Linked DNA regions of Homo sapiens: region 2 is linked to region 1. The links come from fine-mapping of genetic effects on gene expression. A gene starts in region 1. The other region holds a variant in brackets. All regions are shown on one strand. Distances are from middle to middle. Region 1 holds the start of PIKFYVE (phosphoinositide kinase, FYVE-type zinc finger containing). Region 2 overlaps IDH1 (isocitrate dehydrogenase (NADP(+)) 1).

Evidence for each region. PIP is the estimated chance that this variant, and not a neighbour inherited with it, causes the effect.
Region 2: its variant is fine-mapped to the expression of PIKFYVE in blood mononuclear cells (TOPMed, PIP 0.96). The same link has a PIP of 0.9 or more in fibroblasts.

What each region holds. Positions count from the first base shown.
Region 1 is chr2:208,258,731-208,270,533 of GRCh38, reverse strand. PIKFYVE (phosphoinositide kinase, FYVE-type zinc finger containing) reads right to left here and starts at 4,279. Exons shown (of 42, transcript NM_015040.4): 1 at 4,119-4,279. It also overlaps the pseudogene MYL6BP1. RefSeq lists enhancers at 558-1,059, 4,393-4,442 and a silencer at 3,993-4,262.
Region 2 is chr2:208,237,924-208,251,171 of GRCh38, reverse strand. IDH1 (isocitrate dehydrogenase (NADP(+)) 1) reads left to right here. Exons shown (of 10, transcript NM_005896.4): 4 at 2,512-2,803; 5 at 5,748-5,853; 6 at 7,568-7,745; 7 at 9,027-9,178; 8 at 11,169-11,309; 9 at 11,939-12,101. Among named protein-coding and RNA genes, the nearest start is that of IDH1, 11 kb to the left of the region's middle. The variant A/G (reference allele first, on the strand shown) is at 7,213.

The DNA.
Region 1 (11,803 bases):
AGACATTAAGATGAAGATCTTCTTAAAGGGCTTTGTTTCTAAATAACCAAAAAATCATATTTCAACCAAAGCAATAAAGCTAACCACATCACCAGATGGAAGTTACAGAAAAGTACTATTTTCTGCCATATTGATTTATATTTCAAAGAGAAGAACCATGGATAACTCTAATCATTAAAATAATGTAGACTGGTCCAGGCACGGTGGCTCACACCTATAATCCCAGCACTTTGGGAGGCCGAAGTGGACGGATCACCTGAAGTCAGGAGTTCGAGACCAGCCTGGCCAACATGGTGAAACCCCATCTCTACCAAAAATACAAAAATTAGCTGGACATGGTGGCGGGTACCTGTAATCCCAGCTACTCAGGAGGCTGAGGCAGGAGAATCGCTGGAACCCAGGAGGCGGAGGTTACAGCGAGCCGATCACGCCACTGCACTCCAGCCTGGGCAATAAGAGCAAAACTCCATCCACAAAAAAAAAAAAAAAAAAAAAATACTGTAGTCTGGCCCAGACACGGACCCTGCAAGAGATGGGTGCCCCCATCCGCACACTGTCCTTTGGCCACCAGACATCATGCCTCCCAAGGATATTCTGGGAGGAACCAGCAGGGCCCTCCATCTCCAAAGGTGCTGCCAAGCCAGCAGCAGCATGGGCCCCTCCAGCCAAGACCAAAGCTGAGCCAGCTATCCCATCCCCCAGGCCCCTGAGAAAACCAAGGAGCCCCCAGTTGATCTCTCCAAAGTGGTGATCAAGTTTAACAAGGATCAGCTGGAGGAGTTCAAGGTGGCCTTCAAGCTGTTTAACTGAGTGGGGGATGGCAAGATCCCATACAGCCAGTTTGGGGACATGATGGGGGCCCTGGACCAGAACCTCACCAGTGCCAAGGTGATGAAGGTCCTGGGGAACCCCAAGAGTGATGACCTGAAGTCCCGGCATGTGGACTTCAAGACTTTCCTGCCCATGCTCCAGGCAGCAGCCAAGAAGCAGAACCAAGGCACATATGAGGACTACCTGGAGGGGCTTCATGTGTTAGTCAAGGAGGGGAACAGCAAAGTCACGGGAGCAGAGCTCAGACAAGTCCTCACCACCCTGGGAGGGAAGATGGCTGAGGAGGAGATGGAGACTGTTCTGGCAGGACATGAGGACAGCATCAACTAGGAGGCCTTCCTGAAACACTTCCTAAGCCTACTGAGCTCTGTAGATCCCTAGGGCCCAGACAATGGGCCCCCTGCAGGCAGAAGCATGTTCCAGCCACCAGGAGGCTACCTACTGTTTCAAAATAAAGACAAGGTTCCTCCCTTGGAGAAAACAATATATATACTATAGTTTATAATCTAGTCTCCACTTTACAAAGAGGACATTACAGTCTCGGTAAAATGCTTTTCACATTCAAAATCATAGCTACCATCTCATTTTACTCTTACAATCCTGGAAGGCACACACAGCTGGCTTTATGACATTTTACCTTTGAGGCAACCAAGGTACTCTGAACCTAAAACAACTTTCTTGGGGGTCACACAGACATTAGTAGAACTGTCACTATACCCCAAGTCTCACCCCAAAAGTATTACCTAAATCAAAATTACTTTTGTAGCTCTTCACACTTCCCTTTTAGCCTATCCGCGTTCTCTAACTACTTAAGGCTTTGTCTGATCAATAATTTAATTAATAAATTAAGGCAGAAATGAAACCACTGACTTAAACAGAATTTTGGCAATACATGTTTATTGGGGGGGGAAGAAAAAGAGGAAGAGGAAGGGGAAGGAAAGAGGAAGGAGAAAAGGAAGAAGAAGGGGAAGGAAGGTTTCTAATATCTTCCACTGAGAATAATCATCAACAATCCTTCTGAAGTGTCATGACAATTCAGCAAAAAGTGTTGGGAAGTAAGCTGATAACTGAATAAGTATACACTCAAAAAAAAGTTTGTGTTTTTTTTATATTAAAAAAAAAAAGAGGCCAGGCACTGTGGCCTCATGTCTGTAATCCCAGCACTTTAGGAGGCTGAGACGGGAGGATCGCTTGAGGCCAGGAGTTCCAGACCAGCCTAGTCAACATAGCGAGACTTCATCTCTATTTTATTTAGGGAAAAAAAAAAAAAAAAAAAAAAGAGCTCTGGAGAGAAACGATAATGTGATGGCCGTAACAACCACCCCTGGAAAACAGCCTACATTCTACTTTGACACAAGTAATGTCAGAGGCAGAGATGACATTCTGCCTAAAGAGTCTTAGAATTACTTCTAAAGGTTATCTACACAAAAATTATACTCGGCTTTGGAAATAAGAAGATAAAAATTCCCATGAAAACACTTAGCAAGTGTAGTCTCTGAAATATAAACCCAATCATATAGTTAACCCTAATAATTACATAATGACACTAGGGCCCTGAAAAAATTATCTTATAACTCTCACTCTTTAGCAGCTTAACAACGCTTTAAAATATAAATTAGGACTCTTTCCTGAGTGGTAATCAGTCCTATTAACCTACCTACCCAAAGCCTTCTGATATATCACCAATACTTCACCATTTCTAATTAAGGCTACTAATATATGCAGACCTACTACAAACTATCAGAAGCCAGTCAGTAAAGGCCGGACGTGGCTGCTCACACCTGTGATCCCAGCACTTTGGGAGGCCGAGGCAGGAGAATCCCTTGAGCCTGGGAGGCGGAGACTGCAGTAAGCCGAGATCACACCACTTCACTCCAGCCTGGGCGAGGGAGGGAGACCCCCGCCCGGTGGCTCACGCCTGTAATCCCAGCACCTTGGGAGGCCGAGGCGGGTGAATCGCCTGAGGTCAGGAATTCAAAACCAGCTTCGCTAACATGGTGAAACCCCGTCTCCCCTAAAAATACAAAAATTAGCCGAGTGTGGTGTCGCGCGCCTGCAATCTAGCTACTCAGGAGGCTGAGGCAGGAGAATCGCCTGAACCCTGGGAGGCGGAGGTTGCAGTCGGAGGAGATCGCGCCACTGCACTCCAACCTGGGGGACAGAGCGAGACTCTGTCTCTCAAAAAAAAAAAAAAAAAAAACTGGCAATGTAATAATTTAGGAAAGCTGAATATTGGAAATGTTAGCTTCTATCAACAAAGATTTCTTGTTCAATTTTTGACCAACACGCTTAAAGGAAAACCAGAGCAGGATCCAGAAAGCAGAAAAAGGGAGAACACAGGAAATTAGCCTTGCTCCACAGAAGAGATTTAACCTACACAATCTTTGTCACAAACACAAAAGAAAGAACATTTTTTGTAAGAAAACTGACAGAGTGGGAGTTTTGGAGTGCCAAAAAAGGGGCTCAAATAAATCAGAAATAAGTACATTATACCAAGCGACTACCTCTATTGTCAACACTGGACATATTTTACAACACAGGATGCACTGCGTCAATAGTAGATAATGAATCATGTATACACATCAGATACACACGAATAACTTGCTTTATACAGAATTCTAGCACTTCTTATATTTCTTGACTGTCTTAGGAATAACCTCTGATTGGGCAGAAAACCCCTAAGTCCTAAAAGTTTCCAACACATTCCATTCTCATCCTTTTGTTGGGAACATTCTAAGCAAAGGGTAAACACTAATTGGGAAATAATGCTCCTCCTCAAGAAACTCCAAAACCTAAGTTGAAATGGAATCGTCTCAAATAGCAGAGGCAAGCATTTAAAAAGACAAACACTTATTTGAACCCCCACGGTTGGTATCGTTTCTGCAGCTCATGAACTTTCTTTTCCAGCCTACGGATGCGCCTCTGACAAACTCAGAACTCATGCACTCAGAGGGAAAAGTAACTGTACTCTTCCCCTCCTAATTAAGTTCAGGCGTAAGGGTCGAGAGAGAGGCAAAGGAACTTCAAATGTTTCCAAGGAAATCTCAAGGGCCCCACCCGGCTTCCGTCCCCACTCGCCAGACAAGGCAGCCGGGGAATAGGGAGGACAAGCTAATTCTAAAGCCAGATTCTCTGCCCTTCCTTGCTCAGCCGGCAGCCAGGCCCTAGCCCCCGACTGCGGAGCCCTGGTTCTCACTTTCACCTCAGCTCTGGCCCTGGAGCTCCCCATACCGGCCTCCTTCCCATGCTGAGCCCCAGCCGGCCAAGCTCCAGGCCCCCTCCCTTACCTGCGCCTCCTGCCCCGGCCGCGCCGGCTGCCCCCCGCCCCAGCCTCCGCTTCAACGGCTCAGCCCCCGGAAGTCGGCCCCCGAGAGCGGCGGTGGGCTCCTCAGGCCGCGGACGGTTGCGGCAGGAAGCGAAGCTGCTTACATGGTTGATGCGGCTTCTCGCTTCCCCCCCCCAAGACTCCGCCCTCTGTTTTCCTGTCCCCCAGTCCGAAATCTTTCCCGGGGGCCGGCTCCTCCCAGCCCGGCCGACGCTCGGATCAGATGCTCAGGCAGAAGGAGTCCAGCCCAGATCGAGTCGTCCTGATCTTTTGGCCGAGATTAGGCCGCTTCAGCCTTCCTGGAAGAAGCCAGGGGGACTGCGCGCGTGAGCGTCACGCATGCGGGGTCAACGGATGGGTGCTTGGTGCTCTGGGCACTGCAGGGGTGCTGGCTGGACTGCGGTTACCGTATGTGTTCGATACTGTGGGCACTCATAATATGTTATTGCTTTGTTGTAGACAGTTCACTCGTGTAGCACTGAACCGGAGTTAGCGATGACTCTGTTTCCAGACTTGCATGACTCCACCAATAACCAGCCATATGATCTTAAGCAAATTGCTCATTTATTTAGGCCTTAGACCTCTGGTGTGTAAAGTCGGATTAATAAAAGGACTCACTTCTTAATACTTTTTTGAGATTAAGTAAATGCACTTAAAGCGAATGGCACAGTTCCCTGACCCAGAGTAAGTGATGTCGGCTTTATAGTTAATTTTTTCATTTAGGTGTTGTGTTGCAAATGCTGATGCAAATAAAGTTACCAAGCCCAAGCCCTATCTTGTTCAGCTTGGCTAGAGTTATTCGTCATTTCTGTCCTGCTGAGAGCGCAGTGCAGTTAACTGCAGAAAACATGCTCGCCGCAGTTGTGGGGCTTGGTAGGGGAGGATGGAAAGCAGACGAAACCTAAAGGGAAATGCAGTTTTAAATTCTGTGAGTCCTTTTCCTCAAGAGTTTTGTCAAATCCCAGCCCAGTTTTCCTGGAGTTGGAAAGCACCATCGAAACCTGCAGGTTGAGTCCAGTGCAAATCCCAGTCACCATCCTCAGCTGGGCCCTTCAGCAATCTTTCTGGGAGTCTGTAGTCAGCTTCTCCCATTCCTTATTACTGCTGCGTCAGACCACCACCACGACCCCCACATTACCTTGACCATCATTCTCATCAGAGAATCATATTTTATACCCACGTGAAAAATCCCAAGGTATCTGGGCGTGACCCTTAACAAGCTAATTCCCCACACACCACAACATTTACCTACATCCACATCTGCCCTGGTCTGCCTTTCTCCCTCATCTCTCTGAGGAAGGGGCCTCTTCTTCCCCAGCTCAATCCTTTTGGCCCCCAATTCACCCTCTCCTGTCTGGGAGCTTGCACCGTATCTGCAACCTCCCCTTTTCCAATGACTCTGCCTCCTCAGCCCATAAAGATGCTCAAGTCTCTGCCTTCCTTTAAAAAAATTTTTTTTAAAAATTTAAGATAAGCAAAAAAGGCCCTCGTAATTATCACCCTATGTTAATATTTCATAAACCTACAATAAAGTATGAAATAGGTACAGAGATCATATGAAAAGAATAAATTGCCCAGCCACGACGACTGCAGTGTATGTAGAAACTCCATCTATGGTTTAAAAAAAAAAAAAAAAAGTGCACTCCGCAAATATTTTTGAGTCCCTAATTTAACCTGCAGTGTGTTAGTTATAGAAGCACTACACTAAGGATAGAATTATGAACGTATCCCACTGCTTCACTTGACTAGCCTAAAAAATAAAAATATATGTGAACATTACACAGTCCATGTCCTCAAGAAGCTTACCGTCTAATATCTATATTAGCTTACAGTTTAATTTCTGTGGAAAAGAGATTGAAAACTGGGCTACTGTTTTTGCAAAAGAAATCATTTTAGATTCTCACTTCACACTAGACATCCAAAATTAATTCCAGATGAATTTTATCTGTAGAGAGATTATTTGTCTGTGTATATATCCTCCTCAAAAACTTTCATTCAAGCACAGATTTAGGATTCTTGCTGAATCAATTATTGTTCGATGATATTATACTTCTATTCCTCTGTATGTATTAGTTGAATTTTACTGCAACTAATAGCGTTCCATCTTTTTCTTTCTTTCTTTATATTGGTTAGTATGACTTTGGACTCATTTTTTTCCAACATGTTATAGTTCATTACTGCCACTATTCATTTCTGTGCTCCAGGTGTCCCCGCCTTGGCTGGTGTGAGCCCCTTCCAGCAGACTCCTGAGTCCATTTGACATGCCTCCATTACCTTTTGAGCACATCTTACTTTTTGTTCTTTTTCTCTCTCCGCCACCCCTTACCCCTGGCAACCACCATTCTACCCACTACTTCTATGAGTTCAACATTTTTAAATTCCATATATATGAGATCTTGTGGTATATTTCTGTGTCTGGTTTATTTCACTTAACATAATGTCCCCAGGTTCATCCATGTTGTCACAAAAGACAGAATTTCCTTATTTTTTAAGGCTGAATAATGTTCCACCGTATATATATACCACATTTTATTTTATTTTTTTGACATGGAGTCTGTCACCAAGGCTGGAGTACAGTGGTGCAATCTGGGCTTACTGCAATCTCCACCCTCTGCCCCAACCCCCCCGACCTCCACCCCACCCCTATTCTCCTGCCTCAGCCTCCCGAGTAGCTGGGATTACAGGCGCCTGTCACTGCACCTGGCTAATTTTTGTATTTTTAGTAGAGACGGGGTTTCACTGTCTTGGCCAGGCTGGTCTTGAACCCCTGACCTCGTGATCCACCTGCCTCAGCCTCCCAAAGTGCTGGGATTACCGGCGTGAGCCACAGTGCCCAGCCCCACATTTTCTTTATTCAGTTGTTCATTGATGGACACTTAGGTTGATTTCATATCTTGGCTATTGTGAATAATGCTGCAATAAAGATGGGAGTGCAGATACCTCTTAAAAATAGTGATTTTGGCTGGACACGGTGGCTCGCGCCTGTAATCCTAGCACTTTGGGAGGCCAAGATGGAAGGATTGCTTGAAGCCAGGAGTTCAACACCAGCCTGGTCAACATAGCAAGACCCCATCTCTATAAAAAGATTTTTTTTAATTTCAATAAAAGAAAAAATAGTGATTTTATTTCCTTTGGATATATACCCTGTAGTGGGATGGCTGGATCACATGATAGTTTTATTTTTAAATTTTTTGGCAACTTCCATACTGTTTTCCATAATGGCTGTACTAATTTGCATTCCTACCAACAGTGTGCAAGGGTTTCCTTTTCTCTATTTTCTCTCCAATCTTGTTATCTTTTGTCTTTTTGATATAGCCATTGTAATAGGTGTGAAGTGATATCTCTCATTGTGGTTTTAATTTGCATTTGTCTGATGATTAATTACGTTGAACTTTTTTTCATATACCTGTTGGCCATTTGTATGTCCTCTTTTGAGAAATGTCTATTCACATCCTTTGCCCATTTTATAATCAGATTATTTGCTTTCTTACTATTGAGTTGTTTGAGTTCCTTATATATTTTGGATATTATCCCTTTATCAGATGTATGGCTGGCAAATATTTGCTCCTGTTCTCTGTTGTCTCTTCAGTCTGTCTATTGTAACCCTTGCTCTGTAGAAACTTCTCAGTTTTATGTAATCCCATTTGTCTATTTGGCTTTTGTAGCCTGTGCTTTTGGGGTCATATCTAAAAAATCACTACTCAGACCAATGTCATGGAGCTTTTCCCTCTCGTTTTTTACAGTTTCAGGGGGTACACATAACGTCTTCAATTTATTTGAGTTGATTATTATATATGGTATGAGATAAGCCTCTAATTTCATTCTCCTGCATATGGATATCCCATTTACCCATTACTACTTATTGAAGAGAATATCCTTTCCCTATAGTGTATTCTTGTCCCCTTATTGAACAATTGACTGTAAATGGGTAAATTTACTTCTGGACTCTTTATTCTTTTTTTCACTTTTTATTTTTTTTTAAAAATGAGCATCCTATTAACTGATAGACTCTTTATTCTGTTCAGTTGGTTTGTCTGTTTCTCTGCCAGTACCATGCTGTTCTGATTACTGTAGCTTTGTAGTGTATTTTGAGATCAAGCAGTATGATGCTTCTAGCTTTGTTCTTTTTGCTCAAGAATTCTTTAGCTATTCAGCCTCTTTTGTCATTCCATAGGAATTTTAGACTTTTTTTTCTAGCTGTGCGAAAAAGTCATTGGAATTTTTATAGGGATTGCATTGAATCTGTGGATCACTTTGGACATTTTAACAATATTAATTCTTTCAACCCATAAACATGAGATGTCTTTTTATTTATTTCTGTCTTCTTCAGTTTCTTTCATCAATGTTTTATAGGTTTCAGTGTGCGGGTCTTTTACTTCTGTTAAATTTCTTTCTTTTTTTTTTTTTTTTTTTTGAGATGGAGTCTCACTGTGTCACCCGGGCTGGAGTGCAGTGGGGCCATCTCGGCTCACTGCAACCTCCGCCTCCCAGGTTCAAGCAATTCTCCTGCCTCAGCCTCCTGAGTAGCTGGGATTACAGGTGCCCACCACTACGCCCAGCTAATTTTTTTGTATTTTTAGTAGAGACGGGGTTTCACCATGTTGGCCAGGCTGGTCTCAAACCCCTGACCTCGTGCTTCGCCTGCCTTGGCCTCCCAAAGTGCTGGGATTACAGGTGTGAGCCACCACACCTGGCCCGTATTTATTTCTAAGTATTTTAATATATTTTTGTAGCTATTGCAAATAGGATTGTTTTATTGATTTCTCTTTCAGATAGTTCACTGTTAATATTTGGAAACAGTACTCATTTTTGTATACTGATTTTATATCCTACAACATTACTAAATTTGTTTATTCTAATAGTTTTTTGGTGCAGTCTTTAGGGTTTTTTATGTATAAGATCATGTAACCTGCCAGGTGTGGTGGCTCACGCCTGTAATCCCAGCACTTTGGGAGGCAGAGGTGGGCAGATCATGAGGTCAGGAGTTCGAGACCAGCCTGGCCAACATGCTGAAACCCCATCTCTACTAAAAATAGAAAAATTAGCCAGGCATGGTGGCGCATGCCTGTAGTCCCAGCTACTCAGGAGGCTGAGGCAGGAGAATTTCTTGAACCCAGGAGGCAGAGGTTGCAGTGAGCCGAGATCTCACTGCTGCACTCCAGCCTGGGTGACAGAGTAACACTCTGTCTCCAAAAAAAACAAAAAAATCATGTCATCTGCAAACAGGTACAATTTAATTTCTTCCTTTTCAATTTGGATGCCTTTTATTTCATTCTTTTGCCTAATTGCCCTGACTAGGACTTCTAGTACTATGTTAAATAGAAGTGGCAAGAGTGCATGTCTTGGTCGTGTTCCTGACCTTAGAGGAAAAGCTCTTTTTTACTGTTGAAATGATGTTAACTGTTGGTTTGTCATATATAACCTTTATTGTGTTGAGGCATATTCTTGCTATACCTAATTTGTTGAGAGCACTTCCTTACTTTTTGACCCAGCAGGCTCATCTTGAACTTTCCCTGCCCCGGGCCTAGAATCAATCAGCTCTCAAAGGAGCACCAATTCCTTTTAGTAGGGATGCAGACATGTTTGTAAAAATTATGAAACTAAGTTCCAGCTAGGATGCAATAAAATTAGCACTCTCTTACACTGCATGTGAAAATATAAATTGGTATATTCCCCCCTAGAAAATGATTTGGTGGATTTAACAAGCACCTTAAATATATTTATACTTCATGATCTAATAATTCCCATTCTAGCAATGTAGCCCAAAGAATTGATCTGTGTTTTAAAAAAGGAAGATAAAGACATTTGTCACAGCCATTTAAACATTAAAGAAACAAAAAGGAAACATCCAATACAAACCAACACAAATGACATGAAAGCAATATAATCAAATCCATTCTAACCAACACAACCAACATGGAAGTAATACAAATAATTTTTTAAAATATGTAGACATCAATAGTATGTTGACTAAGACTTTTAAAAGCATTTTTCCGCCAGGCGTGGTGGCTCACGCCAGTAATCCCAACACTTGGGGATGCCAAGGCGGGCAGATCACTTGAGGTCAGGAGTTCAAGACCAGCCTGGCCAATATGGTGAAACCCCATCTCTGCTAAAAATACAAAAATTAGCCAGGCGTGGTGGCCCGCGCCTGTAATCCCAGCTGCTCAGGAGACTGAGGCAGGAGAATCACTTGAACCGTAGAGGTGGAGGTTGCAGTAAGCCAAGATCGTGCCACTGCACTCCAGCCTGGGTGACAGAGCCAGACTCCGTATCAAAAATAAAAAAGTGTTTTTCTTCACTTTACAATCAACCTTCTTGAAAAGGTTTTCTTGTCTCCCTTTCCATACCCCCCATTCATGCTTCAGTCCCCTGTAGTATGGCTTCTATCTTCTGATCCTCGTAGAACCATTCCACTTCTATCTTCTTCATCCTCATAGAGCCTTTTTACTAAAAGTGCATTCAAGAGGTTTTCCTTTTGCCAAAATTATTTTCAGACCCTGTCTTTTTCTTTTAATCTCTCTGTAGTACTCCCTCTTTTTTGAAAACTTTCTTGTCTGTTGGCTTCTATGACATCAGGCTCTGCTGATTCTTTGTTAACCCCCAGACTCTCCTTCTCATTCTCTTTGTGGGGGCTCCTTTTCCTCTACCTGACCTTTAAGACGTAAGTGTCCCTCAGAGTTCTCACTGAGATTGACTTTTCTCCTTACTTTGAAGTCCTAGATAATATATACTCTGTCTTCAACTGTTATCAAGACATGCTAAAGATTCCCAAATTTCTTTCTCCAGCCCACCCTTTCTGAACTGCAGATGAGGCCAACTGCCTCCTGGACATCATCTTGCTGTCCCATGGCATCGCAAAGTTAAGAAACCTTAAACTTAACCCATGATCTTGGCCATCAGATCTGTGACTCTATGTATATTCCTTCTTTGTTGAACTGCACCTTGTCTCCCAAACTCCAAATTCAGAATTCCCTTTTGCCGTTCTCTCTCTCATAATCTTCATGGACAATCAATGACCAAGCTCTATTCATTCTACCTCAGTTTTTTTTCGATAATCAAAATGAAAATACAACCACATTAGAATATTTATGAGAATCCCATTATCTGGATGAGTGTGTCAAAACCAAATGCTTACAGAAATTTCATGGCCTGTGTTTCCATTTGTGTTTATAACAGTATTTGGGGCCAGACTATTAAAATACTCAGATTCTTTTACTGGCTAAATGAAAGACAAATGATGTCAACACATGAAATATTAACCAAATAGAGAGGGGTGCTGGGCTAAATGAACCATCATATGTCATCCAGTAAAATAGGCCGGCTATGTAAAAAAGAACGTGCACATGGCCAGGTGCGGTGGCTCACGCCTGTAATCCCAGCACTTTGGTAGGCCAACACTGGTGGATCACGAGGTCAGGAGATCGAGACCATCCTGGCTCACATGGTGAAACCCCATCTCTACTAAAAATACAAAAACAAAATTAGCCAGGCGTGGTGGTGGGTGCCTGTAGTCCCAGCTACTCGGGAGGCTGAGGCGGGAGAATGGCGTGAACCCGAGAGGTGGAGCTTGCAGTGAGCTGAGATTGCGCCACTGCACTCCAGCCTGGGTGACAGAGCGAGACTCTGTCTCAAAAAAAAAAAAAA
Region 2 (13,248 bases), 20 kb after region 1:
AGATATAGCTGTGTTTTGTGAATAAAGTTTGTTTTAAGCCTAAATATATTCAGATGAATCTTCTAATTTTAACATACTGCTAGAAAAACTGGATTTATCATCTAAAAGTCAAGAATTATAAGGGAAAGAATGATTTTCAGATTCTTCTAACCTTCTGTTTCCTGTGAAGGTTTTATTTGTAATAAAACAGTGGCTAAGAATAGTACAATGTATTGAGAAAAGGGAAATAAGAGAGGATGTAAGAAACAGTAAACTAAATGCAGTTAACACAATTTTGTCATTTCAAACTCAATTTTCTATCACTTTACTTAGTCAATGGACCTGTTTCCTTTTCATGCCTCACCTTTTGCCCTTTTCATACAATTGTAGTGCAGAAAGAATTCATGATGTTTCTTAGTTGAACCCCTCCTTTCCAGCAAAATTCCCTTAAATCCTGTGTCCCTTTGCCCTGTGTGTAAAGTGCCTGGGGACAGATGCAAAAGTCTATGTAATTCTCTCATTTTTTTCGCTGTGTTTTTCATAAACTTGCTTCTGTTCTTTGTACCTTTAGGTAGAGATAGAATTTTTAAAAGGGTAAAGTGGCTGAAGACTGGCATAGAAAAATATTGAGCAACACGTTTCAGCCAAACTATTGGCAACTCTAAGTGTGTTTGCCTCAGCCCAGAATTAGTCATCAAAATTTGTCCTAAGGACCTGTTTGAGTGGAGACATTTAATTCACATAATGTCATTAAACATACTTTTTAATTGTTCTAAACCTAAGCTGCTGATGTCTATATTGAAATCATGATAAGATATAAATACTTGCAGAAGTCAACCAAACATAAGAAATTAGGCATAAAAACATCTTCCAACTAGGTTAAAAAAAAAAAGCATCTTAGGAACTCCTGTTTCAGGACTTTACATGACAGTAGGTGAACTGGCAGGGTTCTTTTCCTTATAATGGCTGCAACTAAAGATGCTTTGAGCCTCTTTAGTGTGGAATCATGAGGAGTTTTAAAGGGGAGTCACTATGACTAGGAGGAAAAAATTTGGTGGCTGCAGACTAGATAATTTTTGGAGGCTCAAACAAGTTTTAAATTTTTCCAAAATTCCTATTATTATCACTGACTGGTTCTTTTTCAGGAGAATGGAGCAGGTAGTTTGTTTTATGTAGGCTGGACAGTGGTCTGGGCAATTTGTTCCTTCCTTTCTTATCTTCTTAGAAATGTTAAGAAGACAAGCAAAAAATCTAATAATTTGCTGATAGATTCTCCTTATGAGAAATGGTTCCTAGGAACTTGAAAACTACTGATCATACTTCCTGTTGGAGTTGGGATTGGATCAACATTTCCTATGCAAGAAGATAACAAAGGACATGACTTTGTTAGATTTATATGAATTATCTAAAGTCGAAGCAGTTGGAAGTTATTTTTATTTGGAAATATGTCAAGATTACTATCTCTTTGTTTGCATCATGAGTTGGGTAGGAGATCTAAGAAAGGAAGATAAGGGAACCAAAAAGAAATCTAGAGGCAGGTTTTAAGAGCTGAAAAACCTTTTAAATCCTTGGAGAACAGAATAAACAAAACATTATTTTGTTTTCTTGCTTTTTAACAAACTATTGCATGCTTCAAATAAAGCTTTGCAGTCATTTTCTATGCTCCCTGGACAACTAACATTCTTTCAGCTCTGAATGACCTGCAATCTTTGTGTTGGTGTATATTAAGCTATTACTCTCTGGTATGTAGAAAACCATTGATGGATTCCTTTACTTACCCAATAAATTGTAGGCTTGTTTCCAGAGCAAACACTTGCTCAAGAATTACAGAAGGAATTAGCTGGGCATGGTGGTGCATGCCTGTAGTCCCCGCTACTGGGGAGGCTGAGGCGGGGGAATCACTTGAACCCAGGAAGGCAGAGGTTGAGTGAGCCAAGATCGTGCCACTGCACTCCAGCCTGGGCAACAAAACGAGACTCATCTAAAAAAAAAAAAAAAAGGGAAAGGCTCATTTTATGACTAACTGGCATTAATGAAGTAGTCATTCGCATTTTTGGCATCAACTGTCACATCTTTACCTCCCACCACTTCAACGTCAAAATACAAAAAATCCTTTAACCCCTCCCACCCCCTTTTATTTTTAAAGAGCAATATTTACTAAGGGAAAAAGGTGGTCCTTAGACTTACACTTATTATACTAATTATATGGAGAGAAACCAGGCCATTATTGCCTCTATCTGGTGAAAAACAGGAGGCAAAGGGCAGAGTTTGATGGTTTCCATTCATTTTCCTGATAGACAGCTTCCCATTACAAGAGGAGGGGCAGCCCAGCAGTCTAGCCTCTCTTAGTTCTCTTTGTAGTTGGCACCCATCTTCTGTGTTTAGGGTGTGCCAGTGCTAAAACTTGGCAGATTTTGGTGTACTCAGAGCCTTCGCTTTCTGCATAATGAGCTCTATATGCCATCACTGCAGTTGTAGGTTATAACTATCCATTTGTCTGAAAAACTTTGCTTCTAATTTTTCTCTTTCAAGCTATGATTTAGGCATAGAGAATCGTGATGCCACCAACGACCAAGTCACCAAGGATGCTGCAGAAGCTATAAAGAAGCATAATGTTGGCGTCAAATGTGCCACTATCACTCCTGATGAGAAGAGGGTTGAGGAGTTCAAGTTGAAACAAATGTGGAAATCACCAAATGGCACCATACGAAATATTCTGGGTGGCACGGTCTTCAGAGAAGCCATTATCTGCAAAAATATCCCCCGGCTTGTGAGTGGATGGGTAAAACCTATCATCATAGGTCGTCATGCTTATGGGGATCAAGTAAGTCATGTTGGCAATAATGTGATTTTGCATGTTTTTTTTTTCATGGCCCAGAAATTTCCAACTTGTATGTGTTTTATTCTTATCTTTTGGTATCTACACCCATTAAGCAAGGTATGAAATTGAGAAATGCATATATGTATAACTGTATATTTACACACATTTAGCTAAAGGCAAATACAAATAAACTTACAAATAGGCGTCCATCTCAACACATTTTTTTTCAAACATGCTGTTTTTTTTCCTTTATCCTTTTATTCAGTTATACCATATGATATTGCCATTTTTATGTTGGTAATTTCATATGGTTCAACCAGATCTGTGGTTTTCAACACTGGCTGCACAATAGGATCCCCTTACAAGTTTTTTTGGTGGTTTTGTTTTGCTTTGCTTGATTTGTTTCTTTGTTTTAGTTTCAATGCTTGAGTACCACCCTACACAAATTAAAATCTGAATTCCATGGGGTTCAGGCATTTTAAAGCTCCCCAGGTGAATCTAATGTGCAAACTTGAGAACCACCAAAGATTGTATTAAACATGATCCCATCATGCATAAAAGAAAAAACTGGCTGGGTACTATGGTTCACACCTGTAATCCTAGCACTTTGGAGGCCAATTTGGAAGCACTGCTTGAGGCCAGGAGTTTGAGACTAGCCTGGACAACATAGCAGAACCCTGTCTCTACAAAAATGAAAAGTATTTCAATAATTATGTCAATTGTTCATGGAAGAGCCAGTTTTGTTTATTCATATACAAAGTGAGTAGGCGAAGCTGAGTGGGGTGGCATGTGCCTATAGTCCCAGCTACTTGGAAGGCTGAGGCCTGAGGATCCCTTAAGCCTAGGAGTTCAAGGTTACAGCTATGAGCTATGATCACACCACTGCCTACGCAACAGAGCAAGACCCTGTCTCGAAAAAGAAAAAGAAAAAAAAAACTGACTCGGTAGTTGAAAGCAGCCTTACTAAAGCATTCCTTCCTGCCTGGAAAAAAAGTATTGCTTCTTTACTTCTGTACCAGTACACTTGTTGCCAAATTAAGCAAAAAAACTGCCAAGTAAACAAAATCAAAGTTCAGTGTTGAAACTGAGGTTTCAGACTTTCACAGAAAGTAGTTTATGTCTTAAAAGGACCTTAAAAACAGGAATCTCTCATGCTGAAATCCAGAGGTTTTAATGTAGCCATCATTGAAAACAGTGTGTTGAGGGTAAACAGTTTAGTCCTTGAGGGGTCAGTTAACTTTGTTCCACTCTGTGGCTAAAACTATCCTTTCATCCTGGCCAAAGCCTTCAGAAATAGCTCCCAGGGGCCCAAGCAAGGGAAGGTAGATGGCAGTGGTGCAAACTCGCTAATCTTGTAAAAATCACCCTAGATTCTTTCCAGTTCAGTCGTGCCTTTTTTCTGCGTATATCCTTTTTGTTTTTTGTTTTTGAGACAGAGTCTCGCTCTGTCGCCCAGGCTGGAGTGCAGTGGTGTGATCTTGGCTCACTGCAACCTCTGCCTCCCGGGTTCAAGCAATTCTCCTGCCTCAGCCTCTTGAGTAGCTGGGATTACAGGCACATGCTACCATGCCCGGCTAATTTTTGTGTTTTTAGTAGAGACGGGGTTTCACCATGTTGGTCAGGCTGGTCTCAAACTCCTGACCTTGTGATCCGCCCGCCTCCGCCTCCGCCTCCCAAAGTGCTGGGATTACAGGCATGCCACCATGCCCGGCCTTCCTCTTTTTTTTTTTTTTTTTAATTATTTTGGCATCAGTCATTTGTAAAAATGGCCATTCTATTTATTAAAGTCCAGAAAGAGAATTTCAAACCTCAGGTTGATTCATGGACTGTTTAAATATACATAAACCTATACAAAGCATTTATGGTGCTTTGGTACCTCAGTTTCTCCCTTTTCAGAAATAGTAATAAATTACCACCCATATTTACTTTATGGATTTTATATGTCAAAAATGTTCTGTGTAAAGTAGGTGTTTAATCTTTATTGTTACTTACTGCTCTTTTACCAGTTGTTATTAGTATTTCTCTACACTTATAGATGTGGCCGGCACCTGCTGGTACCTAACTCTGCAAGTATCTGATTCAATTCATTGAAGAAGATACAATGCAGCAAAGACTTATGGATGTCTAGTATATGCCAGGCATATTATTCCACTGAGTAGCTGAGGCCCATGAGGGAGGTGCCTGTCCTTGAACAGCCCTTTCCTAAAAATCATCATCATCCCATTGTAGCTGCTCCCAGAATGATTTGATTGCTCCATATGAACAAGTCCTATAACACTAGTAACAATGATACCATGAGAGACCGAGCCCCGATGGCCTAAGTAAGGACGAGACCTCAAGTCCTTTGACCCTGGATGCATTATTTCTACTATATCATAGTTCCCTCCTTGTAAGACTGATGTAAGAATCAAATGAGATTATGCAAGTTAAGCATTTAAAGCATCTGGCATAGAGTAAGGACAAAGCATTAGCTACCTCAGTACTACAATTAGTATTGTTATCATCACCCTCTAGGGAGACTTCCCTGACTTCCTTCCATGGTCACCTCTTTTCCTCTGTCATCCTATAGTTTTTTTTTTTTTGGGGGGGGGGTCTAATACCCTCTTTTGGCATTTGAAAGCTCTTATATTGCTTTTCACTTATATATGTCTTTATAGGGTTGTAAACTTCCTAAAGGAAAGTGGCTTATGTTATTCTCTGTCCTCTTCAAATCAGTGCTCAGAAAACTTTCCTATACCTCGTATAGGCACCTAATAAATATTTACTGATTTAGGGGAATGTCTGGACCTCTTCATCCCCATCTCCTAAAAAAAAAAAAAAAAAAAGAAGTTTGACATACTGCCCTATTTGTCTAGGTGTCTTCTAGGTCTATATTATATGAATATTCTCCTTACAATTCCTGCTAGGGTATTTTTTTTTTCTTTATACCTTTTTCCCCTCTACACAGTACAGAGCAACTGATTTTGTTGTTCCTGGGCCTGGAAAAGTAGAGATAACCTACACACCAAGTGACGGAACCCAAAAGGTGACATACCTGGTACATAACTTTGAAGGTATGTATGACTGTAGCATAAGCTTCTTTTTTTTTTAAACAAATGATTTAGATAATATTTTTATTGCTTTTTTTGTTAGTTATGTGACTGCCTAAAAATATAATCTGAATCTACAGTGTTTTTGCAAAACCCGAAACTTGACATAAAGAAGTAATTTGCTTCCATACCTTCCTGTGGCATGAATAAAGGCACAAAAGGGTTACCCACTTAATTGGAAATGCCTTTAGGCAAAGACAAGGAGATGATTATGCATTTATCTTAAAGCACAGAGAGAAGGTTGGCAGAAATCTGCTGTGCATGAATTATATACATTAAATATTAATATTCTCAAATCACCCAGCATATAATCCTGCCCTTTGCTCTGGTAGGGCTCTTGTATCTGGAAGAGGTTTCCTTATATATTTGCTGAAGTTTTCTTCTTGCCCTTCTGGGTATTTATCCTGTGAAAAAGTAGAACATTTGCTTTTTGCCTTTTCTTTCCCAGCTACCCTGCTACCTTTGATGGCAAATCCCACCCAAAAGTTGTTGAAATAATTAGTGGGCCCTTTTCCTTCACTATTGAAGTTGTTGAAAGCACTCACACAAACAAAAATACCCAACACTCACCTACCTTTTGTTTTTCTTGCCTCTTCCAAATAATATCTGTTGGAATCTGGTTCTGCAGGCTTCAGCACCTTTCACCCTGAACCCAAGTTAACCCTGAGCATTGGCATGGATTCAAGTTCTATCTTTAAGTAATAACAAAGTTCAATAATAGTTGTAAAACACAGTGATTACATGTAGCATAATTATTTCTACTTATTTCTACCAACTACAGTAGGAGTGCTCAGTATCCTCCAGGAGATTATAAGAATTTTCATTCAGTATTTGAAATTTAAGTTTTTCTCAATAACTGAGGATTGAGTACACCCCTAAAGTTTAAAATAGATGTTGGGAATTGTAAAGGTAGGGTGTTTGTCCATTCTTGCGTTGCTATAAAGAAATACCTGAGGCTGCGTAAGTTATAAAGAAAAGAGGTTTAATTGGCTCATGGTTCTGCAGGCTGTACAAGCCTGGCTCCAACACCTGTTCCTGGTGAGGGCCTCAGGAAGCTTCCAATCTTGGCAGAAGGCAAACAGACAATAGGTGTATCACATGGCAAGAGCGGGAACAAGAGAAAGAGAAGGGGGAGGTCCCAGACTCTTAAACAACCAGATTTCAAGTGAATTAACTGAGCGAGAACTCACGTAATCACCAAAGGGGATGGTCCTAAGCCATTCATAAGGGATCCAACCCCATGTTCCAATCTCCTCCCACTGGGCCCCACCTCCAACACTGGGAATCACATTTCAACATGAGATTTGGAAGGGACAAATATCC[A/G]AACCATATCAGTATGTAAAAGAAGTTTCAAAATTATTTGCCTTTTCTTAAATGTATTTCTGGTTCATATCAGTTTTTGGCATTTCTGCATCTTCAGGATTTTAAAGACTGTATGTTTTTTCATTTCTGCTGTCCTTCCAAAACAAGTTAGAATGTCCTTATCTAGAACTGGCTTTTCTCTCATTATGTGCCTCAGAAATTTGTTGGAAACCTGTCTGGGACTTCTGAAATCTAGTCTCAGATGTGAGAGCTGAGAAGTAGGTCATTTGGTTGTGGTGGGTGATTTTAGCCTTATTACAACTACATTACATTTATTCTTCTCCCTTTTTTCCTCTCACTGGCTTCTCCTCTACAGAAGGTGGTGGTGTTGCCATGGGGATGTATAATCAAGATAAGTCAATTGAAGATTTTGCACACAGTTCCTTCCAAATGGCTCTGTCTAAGGGTTGGCCTTTGTATCTGAGCACCAAAAACACTATTCTGAAGAAATATGATGGGCGTTTTAAAGACATCTTTCAGGAGATATATGACAAGTAACTATAGTTCTTTTTTAACTTTTTCTTTATTCTCAAGTAAGCTGACATTTGCATATAGAGTATGTATCTCCCTATCCCTATGATTCTGGGTAAATTGAGTGAAAATCATCACTGTCTCTTAAAGATAAGGGCAAAACTGAGGTTTAGCAGGAGTGAAACAAAACCACTCTGACTTGCTTTTATAAGATAAACATGTTCTTAAATAAGGTCCCCACATGAATTGTTTTCAGAGCCAGGTTCTTTAATGTTTAAATAAACGTACGCTGTTAGTGATAAGTTCTAATTTTTCATGTGTGAGTTTCTAAGTCAGACCCATTTCCATTCTTTCTGAAGCCCATTGTTAGAATTTAAAATTCTGTTGGCCAGGCACGGTGGCTCATGCCTGTAATCCCAGCACTTTGGGAGGCCGAGGCGGGCGGATCACGAGGTCAGGAGATCGAGACCATCCTGGCTAACACGGTGAAACCCTGACTCTACTAAAAATACCAAAAATTAGCCGGGCGTGGTGGCGGGCGCCTCTAGTCCCAGTTACTGGGGAGGCTGAGGCAGGAGAATGGCGTGAACCCGGGAGGCGGAGGTTGCAGTGAGCCGAAATCACGCCACTGCACTGCAGCCTGGGCGACAGAGCGAGACTCCGTCTCAAAAAAAAAAAAAGAAAAGAAAAGAAAAAAAAGAATTTAAAATTCTGTTTTAGTGGAGTCATTTGAACTTAAGTCTAAGTTTATAACAACACTGGCTTCCACAGCACAGGAGGTGAGCATGTGTTAATATTTAAGATTGGCATAACTCCCTTTAGGTGCAAGTGTTCAGGCCAAAATGTTCCTGAGGCATTTTGATTCCTCCTCCTGCTGCCCATCTATACCAAGCCCAGAAACTGTCTGGAATATATTTTAGTTTCCTGAATGACACCAAGAAGTAGAACAGTCTTTTCAAAAATGTATTTTAAAAATAAGCTGAATCTCAAGAATCTGATCTATAGTATAATGAAAACTGAAAAGTGAAGTAGTCATTGGGATACTCTACTGTCTCACTTAATTCTCACGGCTTCCCTGCAAGGTGGGTAAAATTGTTCCTACAGATAGTCAAATTGAGTTTTACAGTTAGAAAATGATTGGGCTAGGATTTGAGCCAATGTCTGTCAGATTCCTGAGTTTCTGCTACTTCTACTAAAATATGCTGCTTCTTGTGTGTCCGGTCTTCTGTTTGGGACAAGCAGATGATATCCCTAACAAAATCAATTTTCTTTATTATTATTCTCTTTTACCTTTTGTTTCCCAGGCAGTACAAGTCCCAGTTTGAAGCTCAAAAGATCTGGTATGAGCATAGGCTCATCGACGACATGGTGGCCCAAGCTATGAAATCAGAGGGAGGCTTCATCTGGGCCTGTAAAAACTATGATGGTGACGTGCAGTCGGACTCTGTGGCCCAAGGTACAGAGGTGGAGCCTGGCCTGTAGGAACAGGGTCATTCCAGGGTAGTTCTCTAATTTGGGAAGGGGAGTTTTGTAGTCCTTTGTTGTAAAATCTTGGAATGTTAAACCTCCAGGTCCACCGTCTTACCTGACAGCTAAGGAAATTAAGCTCAGACTAGAGAAATGATTTACTCAAGACCACATGGGAAGTAAATTAGTGGATTGACACTCCTGGCTCCAGTGTCACTCCTTGAAGTTTTAAAGCCTACCTGATCTGAAAATCACTCCCTTTCCCTGCCCTCCTTGTCCTTTGGTGAAAATGTAAAAAACCAGGGCACTCAGGCAAGGAGGGATAAAGTGAGGAGCTTGATCATGTCATAACCAAGCTTTGGTGCCTGCAAAGCTCATTTATTGGGCAGCAGGACCTACTCATGTCCCTCTGCCAGCTGCTGTTCTGGTAGAATATAAAACAAATGTGTTTGGCTGGGCACAGTGGCTCACGCCTGTAATCCTAGCACTTTGAGAGGCCAAGGCAGTGGATCACTTGAGGCCAGGAGTTCAAGACCAGCCTGGCCAACATAGCAAAACCCCATCTCTACTTCAAAAAAAAAAAAAAAAAAAAATTAGCCAGGTGTGGTCGCATGCCTATAGTCCCTGGCACTCAGGAGGCTAAAGCATGAGAATTTCTTGAGCCTGGGAAGCGGAGGTTGCAGTGAGCTGAGATCACGCCACTATACTCCAGCCTGGGCAACAGAGCAAGACTCTTGTCTCAACAACAACAAAGAAAAAGTGTTTTTGTTTACTGCTTAGCTTACACACAAATCAATTGAGCAAAGAACCCTAGGGGCTGTTTACAGAAATTCCAGGAGAAGTTTCATGCATGGGGTAAGGGCCAAATCAACAGAAACACAGCGCCTGGTTTCCTCAGCACCAAGTTGCCCTTCAGTTTCAGTTGCCCTTGGTAGCTGTATGAACTTGAATCTCCCCAGATGAATGTTTGTTAACTTTAATTATGTTTGTTTTTCCCAAGAAGTACTACTTTTTCTGTCTCTTATCAGTGTTAAACATCTCCTCTCAGTTTGAAAATCAGTAGATCAACCTGGTTAAAGATAACTTTTTGCCAGATAAATGAGTTACACAACTCTCCTTACCATCCTTCTGTTTCTCTACATCCTCACAATCATTTGTACTGAATGCAACAGAGGAAGGAGTGTTATTGCTTTGTGATGACTCCGTGGTTGATTATTAACTTCACAGGTGATGTTGGGAGGTAGCAAAAATGGAGAAAAGAAGAAAATCAATTATATAGATATAAGAGTTGTAATGTGGTTCTTTCAATAAGAAACCACAGAAGAGAACTGTTGTACTGAGGGTATGAAAGAGAGCGAGGAAGGGCAACTGGGATGTTCTTAGATCCAACCGATCCTGTGTTTACCTGCCTTCTCTTCCCAGTCCCAGCAAGTGTATGAGCAGCTTGAGGGTTCTTAAGAGACAGCTCTCGTCCATCTTTATTTCCCCAGAACAGCAGAGCATTGCACATAAGAATAACAATAATAGATTGAGCTCTGTGTCCAGTACTATTCTAAGGAATATAAATATATATTCATATATATTTATGAATATATGTATATTTATCTAATCCCACAGCAACCTAGTGAAGTAGGTGCTGTTATTACTCCCATTTTACAGATAAGAAAACTGAGCCGCAGTAGCTATGAAGTCATAGAACTAGAGTGGAATGTAGGCAGTTGGACCCTGAACCCTCCATCAAGGAGTAGGTATCCCTGAAATAAGTGAGGGGAAAATGCAGCCTTTCCAGACCCATTGGCTCTGATATCTGGAGCGGGGATCCTGCCTTCTGAAAGGCAGAATTATTGGTGATTCCATGTGCTCTTGTTTACTTTGCTTACCAAGACCTATCAAGATTGAGTCATTTATGCTCTCATCTCTGAGAGACTCAGTGCTCTTCATGCAGTTGGACCCAACGCTTCATGCTCCACTACTTACAGGGTATGGCTCTCTCGGCATGATGACCAGCGTGCTGGTTTGTCCAGATGGCAAGACAGTAGAAGCAGAGGCTGCCCACGGGACTGTAACCCGTCACTACCGCATGTACCAGAAAGGACAGGAGACGTCCACCAATCCCATTGGTAAGATGGTGTTTACATTGATTTCTCACCAGAGAGTGCTCTCCAAAGCAGCCCAGATGTGTTCCCTTGGCTGCTCAGTGTTTTGTGTGCAAAGTCATCACCAAGTAGCTGATTTGTTCTACTAGTAAGATCTATTTGAATATGCTTCTTAAAATATACAATATTTGCTTTTCTGTTTTGTGGGAGAACATAGGTTACAGAGAGGAATGTTATCAACAAGCATTTTCCTTTACCTCTGGTGCAGTGAAATGTCACATAAGGCTACAAATCTAAAAGTCACATGGATAGATCCTTTTAACAAGTTTCAAAGATAGCACTTCAAAAAGAGATTACAGCCTGGAAAAAGGAGACCAATATAGACAAGAGATAGAAGAGATTGTGACCTTTTTCAAATTAGAAAATGCCTTAAGTTTCAAACACTAGTACCATGCCATGAAAATGTGTTTTTTTAAAGTTTCTGTTTGGTAAAATATTTCTAACTCTCCTAAAACTTCTAGCCCATGTGGTTAGTATCTAAAGAAGTCTGTCACCTAAACAAAAAACTATTCTGTTTTGGGGAACTATGAGACATTTGGAAACCTCTATAACTAGGATGATTGGAGTGTTGTGTTTTTTTTCCCCTCTTTTAGCTTCCATTTTTGCCTGGACCAGAGGGTTAGCCCACAGAGCAAAGCTTGATAACAATAAAGAGCTTGCCTTCTTTGCAAATGCTTTGGAAGAAGTCTCTATTGAGACAATTGAGGCTGGCTTCATGACCAAGGACTTGGCTGCTTGCATTAAAGGTTTACCCAAGTAAGTATAAGATGCCCTAGTTTCTATGGTCAAATTAACACTTATCCTCACTGGGCTCAGAGCATCGGTGCTTTCTGGAATTATATAAATTGTTATTCATCATCTAGTTCAGGAGTCAGCAGATATCTGTAAATTGTCAGATAGTGAACATTTTAGGCTTTGTGGAACATATAGTCTTTTTGCAACTACACAACTATTCAACTTTGCCTCTGCCATTGTAGCAGGAAAGCAGTCATAGACAATACAGAATCAAATGGTGTGGCTGGTACCAATCAAACTTTTATGTTCAAAACCAGCCTCGATTTGGTTCATGTGCTGGGCTGTAATTTGCTGACATCCCATCTAGTTGATAATCATTGAACGAAAAGGTTCTATTTAATTTTAAGAAGCAGATTATAGACAAATAGAAACAAAGATACTTCAGAGGCTATTTTATTCTACTCCTTTATTTTCTTTAACTTACTGATGAGAAAAGTGAGCAGCACAAGTTTAAGGTGTGCAATTGATTACAGTCCCTTAAGTATCTGTAACCAATATTTGGGCAAATATTTGACAGCCCATATGTTTACTGAGAATTTTTCTGAGAACATAGTAGCCAGTATCCTGGGGGGATTGTCTCCATATCTCAACCAGTGCATCTGCAGAGGTCCCAGGTAGGGTCAGTATACCCCATAATGGGGATATACTTGGTCACTGCATGTTTCTTAATTTAAATTTCCAACAAGATTGCAGTGTTCGCTGGGTGCTGTGGCTCATGCCTGTAATCCTAGCACTTTGGGAGGCCGAGGTGGGTGGATCACGAGGTCAGGAGATCAAGACCATCCTGGCTAACACAGTGAAACCCCATCTCCACTAAAAATACAAAAAATTAACCAGGCGTGGTGGCGGGCACCTGTAGTCCCAGCTACTCGGGAGGCTGAGGCAGGAGAATGGCGTGAACCTGGGAGGCGGAGCTTGCAGTGAGCCGAGATGGTGCCACTGCACTCCAGCCTGCGTGACAGAGCGAGACTCCATCTCAAAAAAAAAAAAAAGATTGCAGTGTTCAAAATGGTCTTATCAGTGGAATACCTTTGTAGCCTATTTAACAGGCACCTGTCAGCAGGATTATGTTATCCTGTCTTTTGTTTTTCTTTTTTTTTCTTTTTAT